Linked DNA regions of Homo sapiens: all the other regions are linked to region 3. Evidence: fine-mapped expression QTL. A gene starts in region 3. Each other region holds a variant in brackets. All regions are shown on one strand. Distances are from middle to middle. Region 1 overlaps LINC01550 (long intergenic non-protein coding RNA 1550). Region 2 overlaps LOC105370655 (a long non-coding RNA gene). Region 3 holds the start of LINC01550 (long intergenic non-protein coding RNA 1550).

What was found. PIP is the estimated chance that this variant, and not a neighbour inherited with it, causes the effect. A credible set is the group of variants that fine-mapping cannot tell apart.
Region 1: its variant is the best candidate, but not a certain one, in a credible set for the expression of LINC01550 in sigmoid colon (GTEx, PIP 0.82).
Region 2: its variant is the best candidate, but not a certain one, in a credible set for the expression of LINC01550 in adrenal gland (GTEx, PIP 0.75).

The regions. Positions count from the first base shown.
Region 1 is chr14:97,962,773-97,969,475 of GRCh38, reverse strand. LINC01550 (long intergenic non-protein coding RNA 1550) reads left to right here. Exons shown (of 3, transcript NR_015430.2): 2 at 1-203. Among named protein-coding and RNA genes, the nearest start is that of LINC01550, 12 kb to the left of the region's middle. The variant A/G (reference allele first, on the strand shown) is at 3,585.
Region 2 is chr14:98,128,090-98,134,792 of GRCh38, reverse strand. The region is part of intron 1 of LOC105370655 (a long non-coding RNA gene); the gene reads left to right. Among named protein-coding and RNA genes, the nearest start is that of LINC02295, 4.5 kb to the left of the region's middle. The variant G/A (reference allele first, on the strand shown) is at 3,578.
Region 3 is chr14:97,974,877-97,981,579 of GRCh38, reverse strand. LINC01550 (long intergenic non-protein coding RNA 1550) reads left to right here and starts at 3,456. Exons shown (of 3, transcript NR_015430.2): 1 at 3,456-3,603. RefSeq lists an enhancer at 2,957-3,456.

The DNA.
Region 1 (6,703 bases), 12 kb after region 3:
TCCAGGTGCAGTCTCCTCAGAACTACAAAGCAAGAAAAGATCACCTTTGGGCTCAGGAACTCACAGTCGTTCTCCCTCTCCCGGAAGGCACAATGACCAGGACAGTACCGAGCTTTACAGCCATATTGAACTCACCATCAACTCAGCACATTCAACTCAATCAGTCAAAATCGTCTTTTCCTGCTGGTAAATAACACTGAAATGTAAGTGCCAACTGTTAGTCTTTCTTATCTGGAGTCTTCTTCCCAAGTTTTTATTTTATGTGAAAGCATTGTGTTCTCAGCAGTTATTTTGGTCTCCATATTTTATAGCCAACCCCTTTGATTTAAAATATTACAGAAGGCTCTGTTCCATCCCTTTTTCTTCCTAAACTGATTTTTGCAAAACCCTTAATCTGGGCTTGAAGGAAATACAATCTTTTCCTACACAATTTTACTTCTTTTTTTTTTTTTTTTTTCAGATGAGTCTCACTCTGTTGCACAGGCTGGAGTGCAGTGGTGCAATCTCGGCTCGCTGCAACCTCCGTCTCCCGGATTCAAGCGATTCTCCTGCCTCAGCCTCCCGAGTAGCCAGGACTACAGAAACGCACCACCACATCCAGCTAATTCTTGTATTTTTAGTAGAGACGGGGTTTGCCTGTGTTGGCCAGGCTGGTCTCGAACTCCTGACCTCAGGCGATCCACCCACCTCGGCCTCCCACAGTGCTGCGATTACGTGAAGAGAAAGAATGAGAAATGCATCTGAGCCTCACTCCACCAAAACAACACACTTTCCCACCTCTCACTCCACTCCAATGAATGTCTATGAGTTTTCAGACTCCCTGTCAATGGTCTTAGGTAAATGCAGTAGTATCTGCTTTTTAGAATTTATAAGACAAGGGCCATGCTGGGTGCATTGGCTCATGCCTGTAATCCTAGCACTTTAGGAGGCTGAGGCAGGCAGATCACCTAAAGTCAGGGGTTTGAGACCAGCCCAAAATGGCAAAACCACGTCTATATTAAAAATACAAAAATTAGCCGGGCATGGTGGCATAAGCCTGTAATCCCAGCTACTCAGAAGGCTAAGACAGGAGAATCGCTTGAACCCAGGAGGCGGAGGTTGCAGTGAGCCAGGATTGCACCACTGCACTCCAGCCTTGGTGAAAGAGTCAGACTCTGTCTCAAAAAAAAAAAAAAAAAAAAGAAGAAGACAATGGCCAGTGCCTTAAAATGAGCAGAAAATTTTCTGTCAGGTATCCTTGGATCCCCTTCCTCTCCTGCAGCATATTGGGCTTACTTTTGCTCATTCCCTCATGCCTTAGCTTCTTCATCTGTCAAATGGAGAGAAAATACTCTTTCAGTCCTTTGTGTAGGAAAAAGTGATAATGGCTCCAGAAGTTTCCTGTCAACTCGGAAGCACTATATAAACAAATCAGACTGCCACCAGTAATCAAAAAAGGAAGGTCTAATACCTCAGACTTATAACTTGTATAGTAAATTTCTAGTTTAAGTTGTTCAACTAAAAAAGTAGAGGACATTTGGTTAAGAGAAAATGAGATTTCAAACACATTATGGTCAAGTTTAAATGGTATTGTTTGTTTCATTTTGCTAATGGAAGAAGGTCTAGTATTTTTCAAGAGTCAGTCATTGGGAACCAGCCCTTAATTGCAGAGTGTTATGGAAAGATCCATGGTGTCTAGGGTCTGTTGGGGAATTTGAGGAATTCTACAGCAAGAGCATTGTGCTCCAAGAGTACACAGCAGAGCTGGGGCTATCGCAATCCCATAAAACAGATAAAATCGGACTCAGAACACAGCTGTATTAGTCCATTCTCACGCTGCTATAAGGACATACCTGAGACTAGGTAATTTATAAAGGAAGAGGTTTAAGTGACTCACAGTTCTGCAGGGCTGGGGAAGCCTCAGGAAACTTACAATCATGGCAGTAGGAGAAGGAAACACATCCTTCTTCACATAGTGGCAGCAAGGAGAAGTATGAGTGAAGTGGGGGAAAAGCCCCTAAAAAAAAACATCAGATCTTGTAAGAATCACTATCATGAGAACAGCATGGGGGTAACTGCCCCCATGATTCAATTACCTCCAACCAGGTCCCTCCCATGACACAATATGTGGAGATTATGGGAACTATAGTTCATGATGAGATTTGGGTGGGGACACAGCGAAACCATTAACAGCTATCAACAGCTTTGTTAGCATCCAGAGAAGGCTGAAAGAGGAAGAAGAGAAAGATGTGGGGCCAGCACAGAAGACTTCCTGGAGTGACTGTGGCCCCACCTGGGTGCACAGGGGTCACAGCAGTCAGAGAGCATAGCAGAGAGAAGGCACTCCTGTGTGAGACCTCCAGGTGAAACTGGGGTGGGGGTGGAAAGAGTATTTATAAGAGATGAATAAACAGGTTAACAAGGAATGAAATGTATTGGGCTTTGAAAGTCAAATGCCATAGCAGCTTGAATTTGATCATTTCATCTGTAGGGAAAATGGGGAGTAGGGGACATTGGAAGGTGGAAAGGCCTAAAAAGCTCACCTTGAAAATCCATCAAGACATTCTTTAAATTTAAATGTAAAACTGTTACTATACCAATACTTATGGCTCCTTTTCCGAGAAAGCCCTCCCCGTGTCTCTTCCCTGCTAATTCCTGGCCATCTTTCTGGCCTTAACAAGGTGCCGTTTTCTCCACCAGCCCCACCCAAACATCTCTCCTTCTCACAGAGGTGGGTCACCCAGAGTGGTCCAAACTTCCCTAATCAAAACAGCCTTTACACATCCTGTGGCTTACAATTCCTTCCTACCCCTGTGACCCTCCTCTTCTTTCCCTATTTAACATTATGAAAACTCTCATCAGTTTGCATTCAATGAATCCTCACCTACTCTGTGCACCTTGTCCCACAAGCCTCCCCTGATTGTAAACCCTCCACAGAGGTCTCGGATGACACCTTGTGAGCCACCAGGCTGTGGGGAGATTCCTCTCTTCCCTCATCAATGTCTTTACCCAGTGAGGTTAAGAAAGCCAGGGCAGGCTGAACTAGGAATTCCCTTGGTTCTAACAGAAAATATGGTCACTTTAAATGACCTAATTGTCCTGTCTAAACACTTCTCTCCTGGGATAATTGAAAATGCTCTTTTAGTCTAGCTCACAATTCCTCACCTCCAGGCCCCCAGGGTTCCAGTAGGCGGGTGGTGGGAGTCCATTAGTCACTCACCTTCTGCCCTTTCTGGTCTCAGCTGGGCTCTTATCACCTGTACCTGGGCCTCCTGGTCTCAAGAGGTCCATGACTGCCTCTCTGTAAGCTCCAGCAAAAGATGGTGAGGTTCAAGCAATTGCCTTTCTTATTCTAATGAGCCTTGCTTCTAACAGAACATGAGAAGGGTTAGTGTGAGTACTCCAGAAGGAAAGAAATTAAAGGAGAGAAACAATAAATTAATGTAATAGAGTGGGCAGAAAAAAATGCTTAGATATGAGATATTCCTGGTTTAACTACATGACTTTCACATGTGATATGGTCTGTCACACCTTGAGCCTCCTTATCTGTAGAATGAAGATATCAGTTCACACTCTGCTGTGAGACTAGAATTTGTATGTGATGC[A/G]CCTGGCATAGTGCCTCAGACACAGGCCCTAAAATTGGTACCTAGTCCAATAGTGGTTGTCATTATACCAAAGAGTACCAATGACTTTAAAAGCTGAGGTTTCTAGCCTTATCAGGACCCACATCTAGAGAGGGTAGAATTGTATTTTCCATACCTATTAGAAGTGGAGTCCTCCAATGTTTACCTCTTGGGCATTTTATAGAATTGAATGGTTTGAGGGGGCACTGAGACCCACCCCCTCTTCAGGTTACTCATACACTGTCTTGAAAATAAAGAAATCCATCTAAAAAAGGATAGATGAGTCCTGCTTACAATGGCCACTCTTAGAAAATATTAAGCCACTTCCCTGGATAATAAAGGAACAACAGAGAAGTGAACACATTCATGGTAGATTCTCATCCTAAGAGAGTAGCACTAAACCCTCTCCCTCCTGTTGTCAATGCCTCTTCAATTTAAAGAATGAACTGCACCTCATAAGAATTGAATTTGCTTATTGATTAATCCATATATATGCAGCACTTGATACCATAAGCCATCATGCTGGAATACAATGTGCTCTGAACTACAGGTGTCTAGTCATTTTAAGTATAAAAATTAGGTAATTATAGCCAGAAGTATTCATTAAAATTTGAAAGTAGATAAATAAAAGAGAACATTGATATCTAGTCATTAAACTTCTACAAATAAAATGTGAAATGAGAAAAAAATGAAACAAAACAAAATCCTTCCTATTATCTTCCCCTCAAATCCCTTTTTTTTTCCTTATGAATCAGATGCGGCATCTCCAGGGAATAGTTATTTCTTCCCTCTATGCATGAAGCAGAGCAGGTTGCGGGGGGGGCGGTGTCCACCCGGGAATGGGGGAGGTCCCTAAAGCAGAAGGTGGCTCCATCATCTGCAATTCCCATCAGAAACCTACCTCAAAGGCTATAGGTCAGACATTGTTTATGGGGTAGGGAGAAGGGCAGGGCTGGGGGGAGCCCACAGTGTGTGATTCTCAAAATGTTGAAAAGGCCAGAGCACAAATACATCTCCACAATTACACTTTGACTTTCTATAAGTGCTGTTTGGAGTCTGAGGAAGTCAGAGAGAGAGGGTGAGTGCTGAGTCTGTGCTCGCAAATTCTTCAGTGAAATGGGAAAAGACAAGTTAATGGTTAGTTGTCTCCATGTGGGTGGGTGCGGGTGGAAGGGCAGAGCTGGGAGATGGTAGGATTTCAACATCAGTTGAAAAAAACAGGCCACGCAGGCTCCCCCCAGACAAGCTGATTTTCCCCCAGTGAATTCACCAGGGAAAAGGGATTTGGAGGCAAGATCTCATTACTAATTTTGTTAAAAACCCACCTGCGAACACAGTGAAATGAATAGTCCCTGGGACTTGGGGGTTTTGGCTGTGTGCTCAGGTGTAGACAGACCTTAACCTCATCAGCTGCTTGACTTCGGGGCTCTTGATAAAATATAAGGTGTTCTTCAATATAAGGGGAATATGGATGCAGCTAGAAACCCAGCCCTGAGCTTGTGGATGGTCACCCCAGGCCAGCTCACAGTACCGATGTGAATCATCTGTGAGCAAATGATAATGAATGACAAAAAAGGCTTGTATCCAGAGGCAAACAACCTCAGGAGGTTATTTTCACTACCTTGCCCATATTTATATGTGGGGTCATGCATCTGTTAGGACTTTCTGTCCGTGGCATTTATTATCTCACGTTATATCTGAACATTTCCGAGGTTTCTGGCTACAGAGGAGGCTGATCAAGAGGCTTAATCATGTCATCAAGGACCTGGTTCTTCTAAGTCTGTTCTTTCTGTATCCCTTGGTGTTGGCCCTGTCCTCAGGCTCCATGTCATGCCTTCCTCAAAATCCCCAGCTCTCCTTTCACTGCAGCAAAATGATTGCCATAGCTCTGTTCCTCACATCTTTCTATCACTCCACCCATAGACAAGGAGGGTCTACTTTTGTGGCTGTGTCTGGTGGCCAGTCTCTAAGGTGATGCCCAGTGATCCTTGCTTCTTGGCATTCACACCCTTGTGTAATCTCTTCCTTTTGAGTGTGGGACAGGCTTGGTGGCTTAATGATTGAGATGTCAGGTCCCAGATTAGGTGATGGTAGATGGTGACATGCTTTTGTTTTTCCATCCCTTCTCTGACTGAGTGAGCAAGCTGCCCTGTGGAGGCCTCAGGTGACCAGACACTGAGAACAGTCTCTACCCAATAACAAGCAAGGAACTGAAACCTTCAGTCTAACAGCTCAGGAAGAACCAAGCCCTCCAACAGCCCCATGAGTGGGCCTGGAAGCAGACCCTTTCCTGGCCAAGCCTTGGGATAGCTGCAGGTTTAGCTGATACCTTGATGGTAGCCTGGGGATAACCTGGATGCAGAAGTCCCAGCTAAGCAACCTGGAATTGCTGACCCACAAAACCTCGGGGATAAAACATGCTTGTTGTTTTAGTCCAAAAAGTCTTGGGGTAGTTGTTATGCAGCAAGATATCATAAGCACACTCCCATAGAAAAGGAAAGGTGTTTCTTTTTTCAAGTTCCAAGGTGTTTCTTTTTCCAAGGACCGCATCCTTGATTCTTCTTGGCTCTGAATGCTGTATGTACGTCTCTAAACCAAAGGTTGCATTCAGAGATAATGACTTTGAGATCTAGAGACAGGAGGGGCCTGGATTTGTGATAGAAGGAGCTGGTCTTCTGTCTTAATGTTCCCTTACTTCCTAGCTGTGTGCTGGGATGAGTCACTGAGCCTCGCAAAAACTCCTCTTGCTCATCTATGCAGTAGCAGGTGAAATTATGTCCCCCAAAGAAACCAGGCCAAGTCCTGATCTCCACGCTTGTGAATGTGACTTTATTTGGAAATAGGGTCTTTGCAGAAGTAATTGCGGTCATCTGGATTTAGGATGGGACCCAAAGCCCAACAACTGGTGTCCTTGTAAGAGAGAGGAAAGGAAGATTGGACATACGCAGACATAGAAGAGACGACAAACAAGAAGGCCATGTGAGGATGGAGGCAGAAATGGGAGTGTGGCAGCCGCAAGCCAAGGAATACCAAGGACTGCCGGCAGACACCCAAAGCTAGGAGGGAGGCATGGGTGGGATTCTCCTTCACAGCCCCCAAAG
Region 2 (6,703 bases), 150 kb before region 3:
CATCCGTTAATTGAACCTCTCAGGAATCAAGAGAAGGGCTCTGCAGGAACCTGCTGGAAAATCACTCTCTTTTTTTACTTCCATGTTCTGTTTTTTTGTTGTTGTAGTTGTTATTTTTATTTTTTATCATACATATAGATACATATATACATGCATATATATATACACACACATATTTATGGACACACACAGCCATGAATGACGTATGTTGCTTTCTGTACAATACTGTACTTTTATTTTCTTTTAATGCTGCTCACATTTGACTTAGAGTGAGGAAGTTGTGTTGAAGAGCATTAAAGAAGCTATCTGAATTCAAATCATTAGGTGGACAATTGTTAGTAGCTGTGCACAAATCCCATTAGCCTTCTGGGCCTCAGTTTTCTCTTCTGCAAGACAGGTGTGGTGATGTTGTCCTTCCAGGTTGGTTAAAGCAAAGTACAGTAAAGACAACAGGAAAGCCAAGACTCCTGTGAGATTCCAAGTGCTATATAGACTTTCTGTCCTGATTATCTTGAGTTGAGACCATGGTTGGGCTGCTTTTTGCCACATATACTGTGATATTGACACAGATTTATATTTTATTGTCAGGTGAATTTTGTTTTTTACTTGAATTTCCCCATCATTGCAACAACACAGCAAGCTACGCAAAAGTGATTAATGATCAGTTTCATGGTTTGAAGGAAATCCCTTTCAAAGACAGTCCGGTGCCCCATCTCTGATTACATCCATGCAGACTCAATATTTGGGTGCAGTGCTGGACCCATGCCTCTCCCTGGAATGTCAACACCAAGGGGAGGTTTCCCAAGAAAGGATGAGACCTGACTTAGTCATCTGGCACAATGCCAGGGTCAATGGTCAATCTTTATCTGATTATACAGGGTCTTTGATTTGAAATTCACTATGTTAATTCAGGCTGAAAGAGTCCTTTATGATCAATATTTAAATCGTAATTAACTGCATTCACTTGCTATTTTTGTACGTCTGATTCTTCTTACGATGTTAAATCAGGTTCTTCCCTGGTTTCAGCATTTCATATTTCAAAACAATATTCTCTATCAAATTTGACCAGTATCTAGGAAAACAAGATCTCTCCTGGCTTTCCTGGAGTGCTGATAATGAGACCTTTCTTTCTTTCAGTTGGTTAAGATTAAAGTCTAAGTCACTTCATTCATTCATTTCATTATTCACCCACCTCATTCATTCACTCATCCATCCATTCCTGCATTCACCTTTCAAATAGTTTTGAGCACAGCTCCTAGCACCTGAAGCTATGTGTTTTCTCTTGGCAATACTGTGAAAAAAATTTATAGTCCAGTGGGTTTGGGCAACAAGTAAACAAGTGACTCAGACACTGATAGAAGTGCCAGGAGAGCAGCAGGTGCTTGTTAGGGGAGTGTCGGAGGAGGCAAAACAGGGCCACTTAATCTGGTCTAGGAAGGGAGTGGTCAGGAGAGCTCCCCAGAAATGTCAACCAGTCACTGGGGATAGAAGGACTAGTCTGAGATGAGAAATGACAGTAGGGGAATTGGCAGAGGTGAGAGGAACAGCACATGTAAGGGCTTAACTCAGGAGGTCAGTGGAGTGAATTTGTATGGTACTTGTTCTCTTTCTTCCATCCAATCATCTTCAGGAAACAGTACTTAGCATTGTTAAGGGGGAACCACTCCCTCTTGTTCTCAGATGTAATTAATAGCAAAATTAACCCCTGGGTCTAGTTTCAGGAGTGGACTCTCATTGGCTTTACCGATTATTGTACCCATCCCTTTGGCCACTGTGATTGGTTCAAGGATGAGTACACAACCCAATCAGAGACAAGGAAATATGAAGTATTTATTGGAGATTCTGAGAAAGGGAAGCCTTATTTTTCTTCATAGGATCTCTCGGCACTCTTTCTTTTTCTCTGGATAGTAGTTTGTAAGGGTGTAAAGTCTGCAACAGCTACAGCCATTTTTTTTTTAATCAATGAGGAAGAATCCAGAACATCCAGAATATTGCATAGAGGGTGAAGCCAGCATCGTGAAAGGCAGTACAGAAAGGTAGGGAGAAAATGGATGCCTATCATTCACGTGGCTAGGTCTGTGGTTGGCAAGCTCAAGAGCCAGGAGACCCAGTGATTTAGTTCCAGTCCAAGTCTGAGCATCGAGAGAGTCTATAGTATAAGTTTCTGTCTGAAGGCCAGCAGACTCTCAGCCCAGAAAGAGATTTGACACAGGAAAAAAAAAACCCTATGTTCCAGCTCAAGGCAGTCAGGTAGCAGACGTTCCCCATAACGTAGGACAAGGTCAGCCTTTTTATTCTATTCAGGCCTTCAACTGATTGGTTAAGGCCCACTCAAATTCAGAAGGGCAGTATGCTTTATCCAAAGCCCACCAATTTAAATGTTAATCTCATTCCAAAACAGCCTCATAAAAACACTCAGAATAATGTGCGATCAAATATCTAATTAGTCTGCAATCCAGTCAAGCTGACGCATAAAATTAACCACAACAGGCAGGAACTAGGACTTTGTGTGAGTATCCATAATGTATAATGTAGTGCCTGGTACACGGTAGGTGCTCAATAAATACTTCTGAATAAAGTTCATAAATAGCCAGGCTGGCTGGTAATTTTTAGCAAAGAAGACACAGCATTTGGATATGGTATTTATCTTTAAGAGCATAAAGTTCAATTTGATAACCCCTGGCTCATGCACTACTTACTCCTGACCTCTCCACTGGTGAACTTGAGCCGAAGGTTGTGTTCAGCTTCTCATCATTTCTGATTTGGAAGGAGCTTTTCCAAGAGTTCAGAGGCTCCTTTCAAAACTGAGCCTGAGCCTCCTAGCAACCACAGTCACAGGACCTGAGCAGCCAAACCCATTCTGCCTTCAGGGTTGCCCCTCTCTCCCCATGCACACACATTACAGCAGCCCCTTCCAGCCACACAGCCACTGAGCATTTCTGTAGCCTCAGTGTGCAGCTGTGCAAATAAGCACCCTTGGCTCTGAGGTATGCCATTCCCCAGGAACATGACATTGAGCACCAAATCCCAGGACTTATCCTCTGTTTTCAGCCCTCTTTCCAGAAAAGCTACATGATGTGAGTCCTGAGCTCTATCTGATTGGACTCCTTCCATATCTGAACTCTTTCACTCTGGCCTCTAGTTCCAAGTCCTGCTTCCTGTGGTTTGAGTGTTGCTTGTGTGGTCAACACGCTCATGCCTGACAGTGACTCTGGAAATGACAACTATATTGAAAAGAGGAGGCTTACTTTGTGTGTATATGTAGGGGAGGAACCAGATCTGGCAAGCAGGAAAGATGATTTTGACTCAAAGTGAAGATGAAGCTATGTCCAGGGATAGTTCAGAATATGGGATCATGGGCAAGTTATATATTCAAGATCCTGAGTTTGACTTGGTCAGGCCTTGAGTCTGCTCTCCACCATGTCTTGGACAGGTAGGGATAAAAATGATCAGAGAATGAGAACAGGATGAAGGAAGCAATGATGGACAAGGAGAGAGAGTTTTGGAAGCTTGGGCTTGTGCAACAGAAAAGACTTTTTGATTGAAGGTGGGGCATGGGCAGGTTTGCTCTGCACAC[G/A]TGTAAGTGATGGGAGCCCCTTTATAACTTGGCTGTGTGGTCATCGGGAGGTGACTCTTCCTTATTTATTCTTATCGTCCAGAAGAGAGTGAAATCCTCCAAGTCCCCCCACCCCACCTTTTTTTTTTTTCACTTTTCTAGGCCAGTTTGGGAGAGGAGGTTCTGCTTAGATATCTACAGTGGCCCAGGTCAAAGAAAGTCAGTCATTGCAAACCTTCACTAGGTCTTTGCATATCAGAGATGCCAATCATTTCTATCCACGGTGAGCTTTAGCACAGTCAGGAATCAGGATGATTAACAACAGGACTGGCTCTGTTCTGTGGAATGATGTAAGTGGTGGATGGTGCCAAGTCCATGATACACAGAAGCAGATTACATTACAGTTAGAGCCAATATTTTCTCAACATGAACTTAAACTGCTCTACTTCTGAGAATGATTATACATCCCTGAGATGCCACATCTGTGTAGATTTGTATGTTCATGTGTGTATGTTCACATGCTTTTATTGAGCATCGACTGTAGGGTAGGCAATGTTCTGGATAAAGGTGATATGGCACATCGTCTTTACTGGGTTGAAGTTTGCCATCTGGTGAAAAAGAGATGCATTAGATAAATGATTATGAATGCACTCAACAGTCAGGATAGTAGGAAATTGTCAGATGCAGAATTGAGCTCTGAGGATCTATTGTTTCCTCTGGGCACTCATTTGAGAATCGGGACCAAGTCCCACTTGCTATGTAAAATGGGGGCAAGTGTGTGTCTCAGGGGTTCAGGAAGAGCAATCAGTTTAGTGGTCACTTTGTGACTTTGTATAGATCTGCTTTATTCAGACTGATCACCCATTTTCCAATTGCTGCAAGTCTTGGCTGTTGTAGGCTCAAAGCTGCACCATTCTGTAGAGAATCACCCTCTGCTGTTAGAACTCCTCACCCTAGAAATTGCATTTTCCACCCACCCACCACAACACAGGTGGCCTGCAGCTAATAGCTAACTGATGCATGGGAACAATCGTCTGGAGTCAAGTCACCAAGGGGACCAACATTGTGGTGCCATTTATACCCCAGAGCTTCTGTGGGATCAGGCATGAGTGAGTCTGCATCTGAGACTTCATCCTTGCTCAGCATCTTCACCTGCCCATTCCCTGATTTCCTCCCTCTTTTTAAAGTTTCTTTCACAGTAAATCACTTGCACAAAGATCTCCATCTCAGGCTCTGCTTCTTGGGACCACAAGCTCAGTGATGTGCAGTAGGGCAGGGTGACCTCACAAGGGATTAGCGATAACATCTTCTGCTCAGTGCTTACTTAGTTGCTAGGGCCTAAACCTATTCCTTATACATCCCAGACAATGGTCAGGGGCAAATGAATAATTGATGGTCCATATTAAATAATCCAGAAGAAGCTTCTAGTTTATCCCCTGCTGAATTCTTAAAACTCTATGGCTTTGAGCTCCGAGGGAAAGACAAGCAGATCTCAGCAGAAGCAGCTGGTTGGAAGCTGACAAAAGGAAACTAATTTGGGGTTCAGCTAGGGTTAACTCACTGGAGAGACCATTGGACTTTAAGTCTTAAAGATAAAGGAGGAAATGGTCATTGGCCATGGTGATGAGGGCTACCAGAAGTCACAACTCCAAGTAGAAGCTATAAACATTCAATGGGTGACAATGGTTCTACTTTGGAGACACAACAGATGATAATTATACTCATTAGAGTAACAATTTATTACAAGCTTATAAAGTGTCATTCTATATAGAATGCATATTATATCCCTAACATCCCCCTCAAAATGCTACTGTGGCAAATGTTATTACTCTGATTTTCCAGGTGGAAAACTGCATTTCAAGGTGAGTTATCTATGTGTTGGAGATGAGCTTTAAAGCTTGGTCTAGCAGATCCCAAATCCAGCATATTTATTTGACTCCAAGTCAAAGGCCAACATTTTGACAGCAGATTGTTTCTTTTGTTTGTTTGGTTTTCACTAAGACACTTAATATGTATGTGACAAAGAATTACCCTTGGTGAGTGTTGCTCAGTTGTACCTGGGCAGTGCCCAAGCCAGCATTAACCAACTCCTAAAGGCAAGTATGATAACTGCTGGGCCTGAAGACTGTACCACCTGCTCACAGCATCTCAACAAAACCACCCAGGTACAGGAACGTGAATTTAAGCGGCTTTTGTGCTTTGAATTTCCCTGATCATTCCTTCACTTTATATTTCACTTTGTATATCAGACATTCCTTGTGAAATGACGTTGAAATAATAAAGTCTAGAGAAATGGCACCCAAATTGATGGTTAAAAATTATGGCAGAGTTTGGAAATAAATTCTTACAATTTACATGAGAAATTCGGTGTTTTGTGGGGCAGGGTTAAGGGGGGACTAGACTGGCAGTCTAGTCTTGAGATACATGGGCACAGTTGTAATAAATATAGAAACATTTGCTCTCAGAGGTGTCTGTTGTGTCAAATAGACTGATGGGCAGTGGGGAAGTGAGGTGGAGGAAAAGGGAAAGAATTTCCACAGGGAGGAAGAAACGGATGTTGTGACTTCTTCAGTCATTGATACAGTCATTCTTAACATGTAAGGAACAGAGTGTCTCTTTTGCAGATAACTGTCCTTATGCTTTACGATTTCAAGACACAGTGTCTAATTGGCCTAGCGATTATAAAGTCCTGCTCACCAGGTGACCCAGTTGACTTAGACTCATCTCAATGGGGATGATGATGATGATGACAGAAATAGCAATAACAACAAAGCAGCCACAGTAATCATCATTCCCAGTTACTGAGTGTTTGCTTTTCCACATGAGACATTAAACAGAAATGTCTGTAGACTCTGTTGCAACTAGAAATTCTCTTTGGTTTGGAAGACTCAAGAAAGAAAATATGGTAACATTTTTGAGGATTTGCTCTGTGCAAGATGCTTGACACTTTATATAGGGTATGTTATCGAATACTAATAGCAGTCCCTACAAGAAACAGGACATAACCCTCATGAGGAAAAAGAGGCTCAGAGGAGTTAACTGGTCACCCAAATTGCACTGCAAATTAACAGCAGGGTGTAGATTCAGGACAGGATGCATTACTACTTTCACAGGGATGGAATGGCCAATTCCTGATGGGCAGGAGCC
Region 3 (6,703 bases):
AGTCTTTCAAGCATCTGAGCTGGGATGATTTGTTATACAGCATTATTGTTGCAATTGCTGACTCAGGCAGGATTGTGAAGCTCAGGGTATGGCCTTTGAAACTGCATAATTCCAATCTTTGGCTCCCTCAAGTTTAGTCTCCCCAAGTGTAATGCAGCCACATTTATGTTTTCTTGCAAGACTTTCGCTTTAACCAAGAGTTTCAAACCTGATTGTCATGACCATGCTAAATGCATAATGGTATCAACAACTAGTGCAAAATGCCCTAAACGTAAAGTGATATGAATATTTATACACAGTTCTCTGGAAGTGCGCATGTTTGTTTCCTCTGGACCCCATGGAAGATATTATTACAGACGGTCACACTCCTTATGAGCTTCATTGACTCATGTCAGCATTGGTGATAAACAGATGCAAACGGCAGTATAGAGAACATTTGGGATGCAAAGCTCTAAGCCAGTGTTTCAGGCAACACTCTCTGGGTGGTTTTAACAAATAATAACATCAAATAATAAATAATGGTATCAACTACCACTATGGCTGTTGCATTTTTTGAGTGCCTCCCTTGGCCGGGAACTGTGTATATATTACTCTAACCTATTACTCACAATCACACTCTAGGGAAAGCATTTTTAACCCCTGTTTTTCAAAAGTGGAAAATAAGACTCAGAGTGGTTAATAGATTTATACAAGGCCACACAGCTAGTGGGTGGCGGAGTGAGCAGAATTTCCATCTGACTCCATCTCCTTCCAAAAGTACAAAATGCACAAAAGTACGAAAATGCTTTTATTATGGATTGAAAATTTCTATCCCTCCAAATATATATCCTGAGGCTCTAAACCCCAGTATGGCCATATTTGGAAATGGGGGCTCGAAGGAAGTAAGACTTACTGAGGTCATAAAAGTAGAGTCCTGATATGATAGAATGAGTGTCTTTATAAGAGACACCAGAATGCTATTTCCCCAGGCACACACACCAAGGGAGGGCCATGTGGCTGTCTACAAGACAAGAGGTGAGCCCTCAGCAGAAACCAGGCCAGCCAGAAATGATCTTGGACTTGTCAGCCTCCAGAACACTGAGAAAATACATTTCTGGGATTTAAGTCACCCAGTCTGTGGTATTTTGTTATAGCAGCTCAAGCAGACTAATACATGTCAGTCCTGAGTTAATAATATTTCCCAGGAAGTCTCAGAGTACTATTAGGGAATGGCCCTTAAATACATGAAGTGCATGTATTAATTCCCAGCCTACCTCCTTCACCCTACATAAAGTGCAGAAAGGGTCAGGGTGTCACAGGGCCCGTTTCCTTCAATGCGTCTGTGGGAAGGACGTGTAGGTGCAGCCCACGATAGCTCAGAGAATGAGACCGGCTTCAGCTTGACCCTTTTTGCTCCAGGAAAGCATGATGTGGATCATATCTTACTTTACTCTCATAGAAATTTGCTGCTTCCTCATGTATAAATAACTAATCATGAGCAGCAGTGTGCTCCCTGTCAGAGCCTGATCAGGACCATAGAGGCAAGTGGGACTCAGCCTGGGTCTTCATGGCTGTGGGAGCCATTACTGCTCTCTGTATTCCAAGTGGAACAGTCCTGGTGTAAGGGTCTTGTTTCAGTGTCTGTGAGCATGAATGGGTGTGCGTGTGTGCACACGTGCATAAGAAGCTTGTATCCTTTCTTCTTCTAGTGAAAGGAAATCCCCTGTACCTGGGGATTGGGGGAGATAGTGAGGTGTTGGGGAGCAAGAGAGACTACAGGAAAAGATGAGGTGCTGAGGCCCACCAACCTGTTTGTCCTCACCCTTTCCATCTGCTGAAAGGTGCCTATTGGGCGTAGAATTGTCTCCAGCCCACTTCATTGGACCAGGTCATCCCAGTTAGCCTGACTGTCCTGTTTGCAGGTCAAGTATAGAGGGAATTTTGCCACAGTAAAACATGCTCTATTTTCAAGTCATATGTGAAGAAAAAATAAATGAAGGAAGGATGAGGAAAAGACCAAATGCTGCCAAGTGTCCACTACAAGCTCTGGTTTTCTGCGGGGGCCACTGAAAGGTGTACAAATTGTTCACCATAAGCCAAGGACACAAACATGTGTGTGCGTGTGTGTGTATGTATGTGTGTTTGATGCCTTAGCACAGCTCGTGTTTGATGCTTGTGATGGTTCTATTTATAAACTTTGTGCTCTCAGATGGGACAACCAGAGGCACTTCTTTCCTGCATTTCAAGTGTTTCATTTCCTTTTTAACATGTCTTTTAAATTAAGGGCATGCACACCAATGCATGGGCTCACTCTCATCTTACGGCAAGTTGATCAGACTAGGGTTAGTTGTCTGAGAAACATGGGTGGCCTTTGTCACAAACAAGAGGAGAAGCAGTTCAGGGAAGAAGAAGACTAAGGACTAGCACTGTTGTTTTGGTGGAGTTGTTTGTTAGCTGACTGTCTACAAGGCACATGTTCTATCGAATATTCAGTGTTGGGTGCTGACTGTGTTACGAGCCTTGTACATAGGATTTAAACCCCAGAGCCACTCTGTGAGGCCAGAATTGCTTTGGGATCTTTCAGATGAGGGAACCAACGTGAAGGCTTTAAATCCTATGTCCAAAGCCACACAGCGAAACCAGAGTGAAATCCGGAGCATTTGAATCAAGAGTTGAATCTTCTTTCCTCCCCGGAGGGAGAATCGCCCAGGGGCTGAGTGCAAGGGGAAAGGCTGGTTCTGAGGGGAAGAAGCTGAGCATGTTGCGGCACAGGACTTAGAAAAATTTAGAAGCATCTGCAATTGTTTTCCAGGGGAAGATACCCAAAAACAATCCAGAGAAGGAAATAAAACGAGAAGAATAGTAAGGCAACATGGAGTATAAAAGTTGCTGCATTTAGGGCGAAGGAGAGAACCTCTCTGCTCCGTGGCGATATTAAAGCTATCCCCAAGAACGGGAGGTGGGAGTGGCCTGAGGGATGACTCCTCCAGCACTGCTGCCTGCCAGCTCCGGGCTGCACAGGGCTGAGCCGGCGCCAAGAATGCCCTCTTCTGGTGATATTCTCGAAGCCCAGGAAGATAGCAAGGCAGCCGAGACCTGTGTTTTCCAGATCCTGGGTAGATTCCCTTGTCAGATGTGGTTCTACTTAAGCAAATATCACTACCTTCTCTTTTTCCTCCTCAGCCCTCAAACTAGTGATAGGGAAATTATTTCAATAAGGTAAGCTGTACCTTAGTAGAGTTTGCTTCCTTTTTTTTTTTTTTAACCCCGAATAATACTCTCTATGTCATCTGTATATTTATGATAGCTCAAAGACATGGGTGTGTGGATCTAATTAAAAATGTGAAAGGGTTTAGCAGCCTGCTGCTTCCCTGCAACTCTCTGGTTGCCAAATCTTGGCAGCCGTGTTGAACTTGAGCCAAGCGTTTAGTCCTCAGCTGAACTGCTGCCAGCCTGCGCACGGCATTGTGGGGCGAGAGCCGGAGGGGCTGCACTGCACCGAGCTTGCACAGGGCGAGGCGGGGGCAGGACCTGGGACCCAGCCACCCCGGAGGAAACCGGAGAGGAAACCAGCTTGGTCTTGCTCTCTGCCTCGTCCCAATCCCCGGCTCTTACCAAATGCAGGTAGGACCAGCTAGGCCAATTTGGTGACCGGGTAGGGCTTCAAGCTACTAGGTGGGAAATGGTCCCTACAGTTTTGCTTTCATTTAGTCGAAATCGGGCCTTTTCAGAGGAGAAACAGTTCTCCACTCTCTTGCAGTAGTTTGGGCCTGAGTTTCAACAGTCGGATGGGGCATTTCTATTGAGTTCTCTGCTGTCAGTCTGAGCTTTTTTTGATAGCTTGGCAATTGTTCTGTGTCTTCTCTCTGAAGCAGCTGAGTCCAGCACAGGGTTTCTCAAACCCTGTTGTGCACACATGTCACTTGGGAAATCTTGTGAAAATGCAGGTTTCTGAGTCTCCCCGGGGAAAGGGGAGAATTCATGTTGCCAAGATCAGAACTGACTAGAACTGCTTACGTTCCACATTATGACTCCAGACTGGAACTTTTGTGAATTCAAGGATGTTAGGCTCTGGAAAAGTACATCTTGGTGATTTGCTGTCAGAGGGAAAAACAATTCAAAGAACTCAGCATTCTCCACAATATGTTGACAAAAATAAGGGGAAAAAAAAAACATCAAAGGCATGGGTCACTTTTTATTTTTTTTTGAAATGTACCAGCTATAAGCAAATTAAAGAGGAAGAAAGGGTCGTATTCTTTGTATACAGAACACCCTCCTGCAGAGTGAAAATTCAACCCTAAAAAGATCTTCTAATATACTTGAGGGGCTGAGAGAGAGGATGAGGGGGGACTTTGCCTTTTAACTTTATATCTTGTGTATTGTTGATTTTTCATGATGATGCATTTCTTTCGTAATTAAAAGAAGAGGCAGCAGCTGCAAGACGGCCCAGGAGCCTTCTTGGCAGTGACCTTCCCCAGGGCAGGCCACCAGGGTGGGGCAAGTATGGACTTTGAAACCACTTTGTCCTGGAGTGGAAGCAGGCTCTGGCATTAAGCTTGGGGAATTTGGCTAACATTGCTGGGCCTTTGCAATTTCATCTGTGCAATGGAGAAATTGGGCCTTCATTGAGGCACAGCTGTGGGTGCCGCAGACATGTTTGTGCGGGGCTCATACCCAGGGGTCCTTAACAGGCGTTTTAAAAATTCAGAGTCTCTCTCCGATGGGGTTAGGACACTATTCCAGATAGAATTTCACCCCGGCAGACTGCTTCTGAGCACAGATATGTTCCAAAACCTCCGGATAGGAGCTAATCACTTTAGAAGTCACAAAGCCTCTGTTCATGATGTTAGAGGAGCTCCCCAAAAACGAGGCCTTGGGGAATAGCAGTGAATTTTCTCTTTCTTTTCAAATGGCAAATTTATACATATGAAAAGTCTAAATGACATGGCAAATAAATCACAAGTAGTCATAATTTAGCCGGCCACTTTTATTATGAAACAATCAAAAGCATGCAGTCGGGACGATGGAGGGAGATGCAGGCTGTGTGGCCCCTGTGCAATTAGGGGGCTGATACTTCCTTCATATCCTAAGTTGGGATGGCATGTCGCTTGCTTTGTGGTTTGGAATAATGCAGAACTGGCTGTTTCTATCACAGAAAGAGGGAGAGGGTGTGTGCCGCCAAGAATCAGGATATTTCCAGGAAAATTTCACTCCAAGAGGCTTTCTTGAATCTCATTCCTAACATGTGGGCAGATGATTGTCTAAACCACTGAGGGATGATGCTGGAGGTAAACATCTAATTAATTAAAGAAAATCTCCTTCTGCACCCCAACTCCGAAAATGCCCCGCAGTTGAGAAACACTGACACACACTCACCCACACTCACCCACACACTCACCCACACTCACACACACACTCACCCACACTCACACACACGCGCCCACACTCACACACACACTCACACATACACTCACACATACTCACACATACACTCACACACTCACCCACACTCACACACACACCCACACTCACCTACACTCACACACACTCTTACACATGTATTTGTAAAAAAAAACTCCCTGGTGACTGAGTCCTTCGGTCCACCTGCGTTTGTTAATTCCAGGTTACAAACACCTTGATCTCCATCACCCTTCTTCCAAGAATGTGTGACCACAACCCCTTCGCTCTTCCAAGCAACGTTTGCTCCAACTTAATATTCCGGTGCTTTCGGGAACAACATTTTAAAATAAACCATTTTGGCACCTTGTCAAAGTCTTGTCTAAATTCCTTCATGACAACCACTCTCAGTGAGATTTTTAAAACCAAAGGGAGTTGGGGGCAGGGAAAAGAGGAGTTCCCCGTTTAGAGTCCTAATTTTAAACAGTATCAAATAAGAATGTATTTATTTCTCCCGCCCCCTCTGTAGTTCCCTCCTGTTCCCACAGGGCATCCTCAGCCCACCTCTATCCTTCAGTCCATATCTTTATTGTCCCCTCCATGGGGTCTGGTCATCTGGGTCAGTGGGAAAGGGTCACTGGCCATTGGACAAAGAAAGGCTGGGCAGGGATGGGGCCTCGGGCAGGTGTTGAAATGTAGTTCCTGGTGTTTGGTAGTAATCACTACAAAACAATCCTGTCTGCTCCATTCCTATCAACAACCTGCTCTCCTTGGTCTGTTGCTAAGAGACCAGCCTGTTGTTTACAAGATCCTTGGTGGCGTAGACTTCCATAATTTATAATTTATTATCTTAGTGTCAAAACTTGTGTTGGTTTTTATTTTATTTCACCATAGATCCAATTATAGTTAGATACAACAAAGGTCATGCATCTGCCGGTGGCACAGTGACTGCACCAATAGTATCCCTCACCACCCCTAAGTTTAGGTGCTGCAGAAGAAAATGCTATTATTAACTGAAGATGAATATCATTTTTTGTCCACTAACTTCATGCATTATATGAGTGTTCAGGTCAATGGATTCCCTCAAGATTTGCTCACTACTGAAAACATGTTTCTGTCCAACCAAGAAGGAAATGAATTGAAATGATTTCAATTATCACAAGAAAGGAATTGAGTTTTCTTGCTGTACAGTTCAACACGTATTGACTCAACTCACCAATCCTCTCCCCGCAAAGTTCAGGGCCATAGACATTTATCCAGCACTAGACATTACTCTGGAACCACCGTAGGGTTTTGTGGATCCACAAAACCACCTTGTGAGGATATT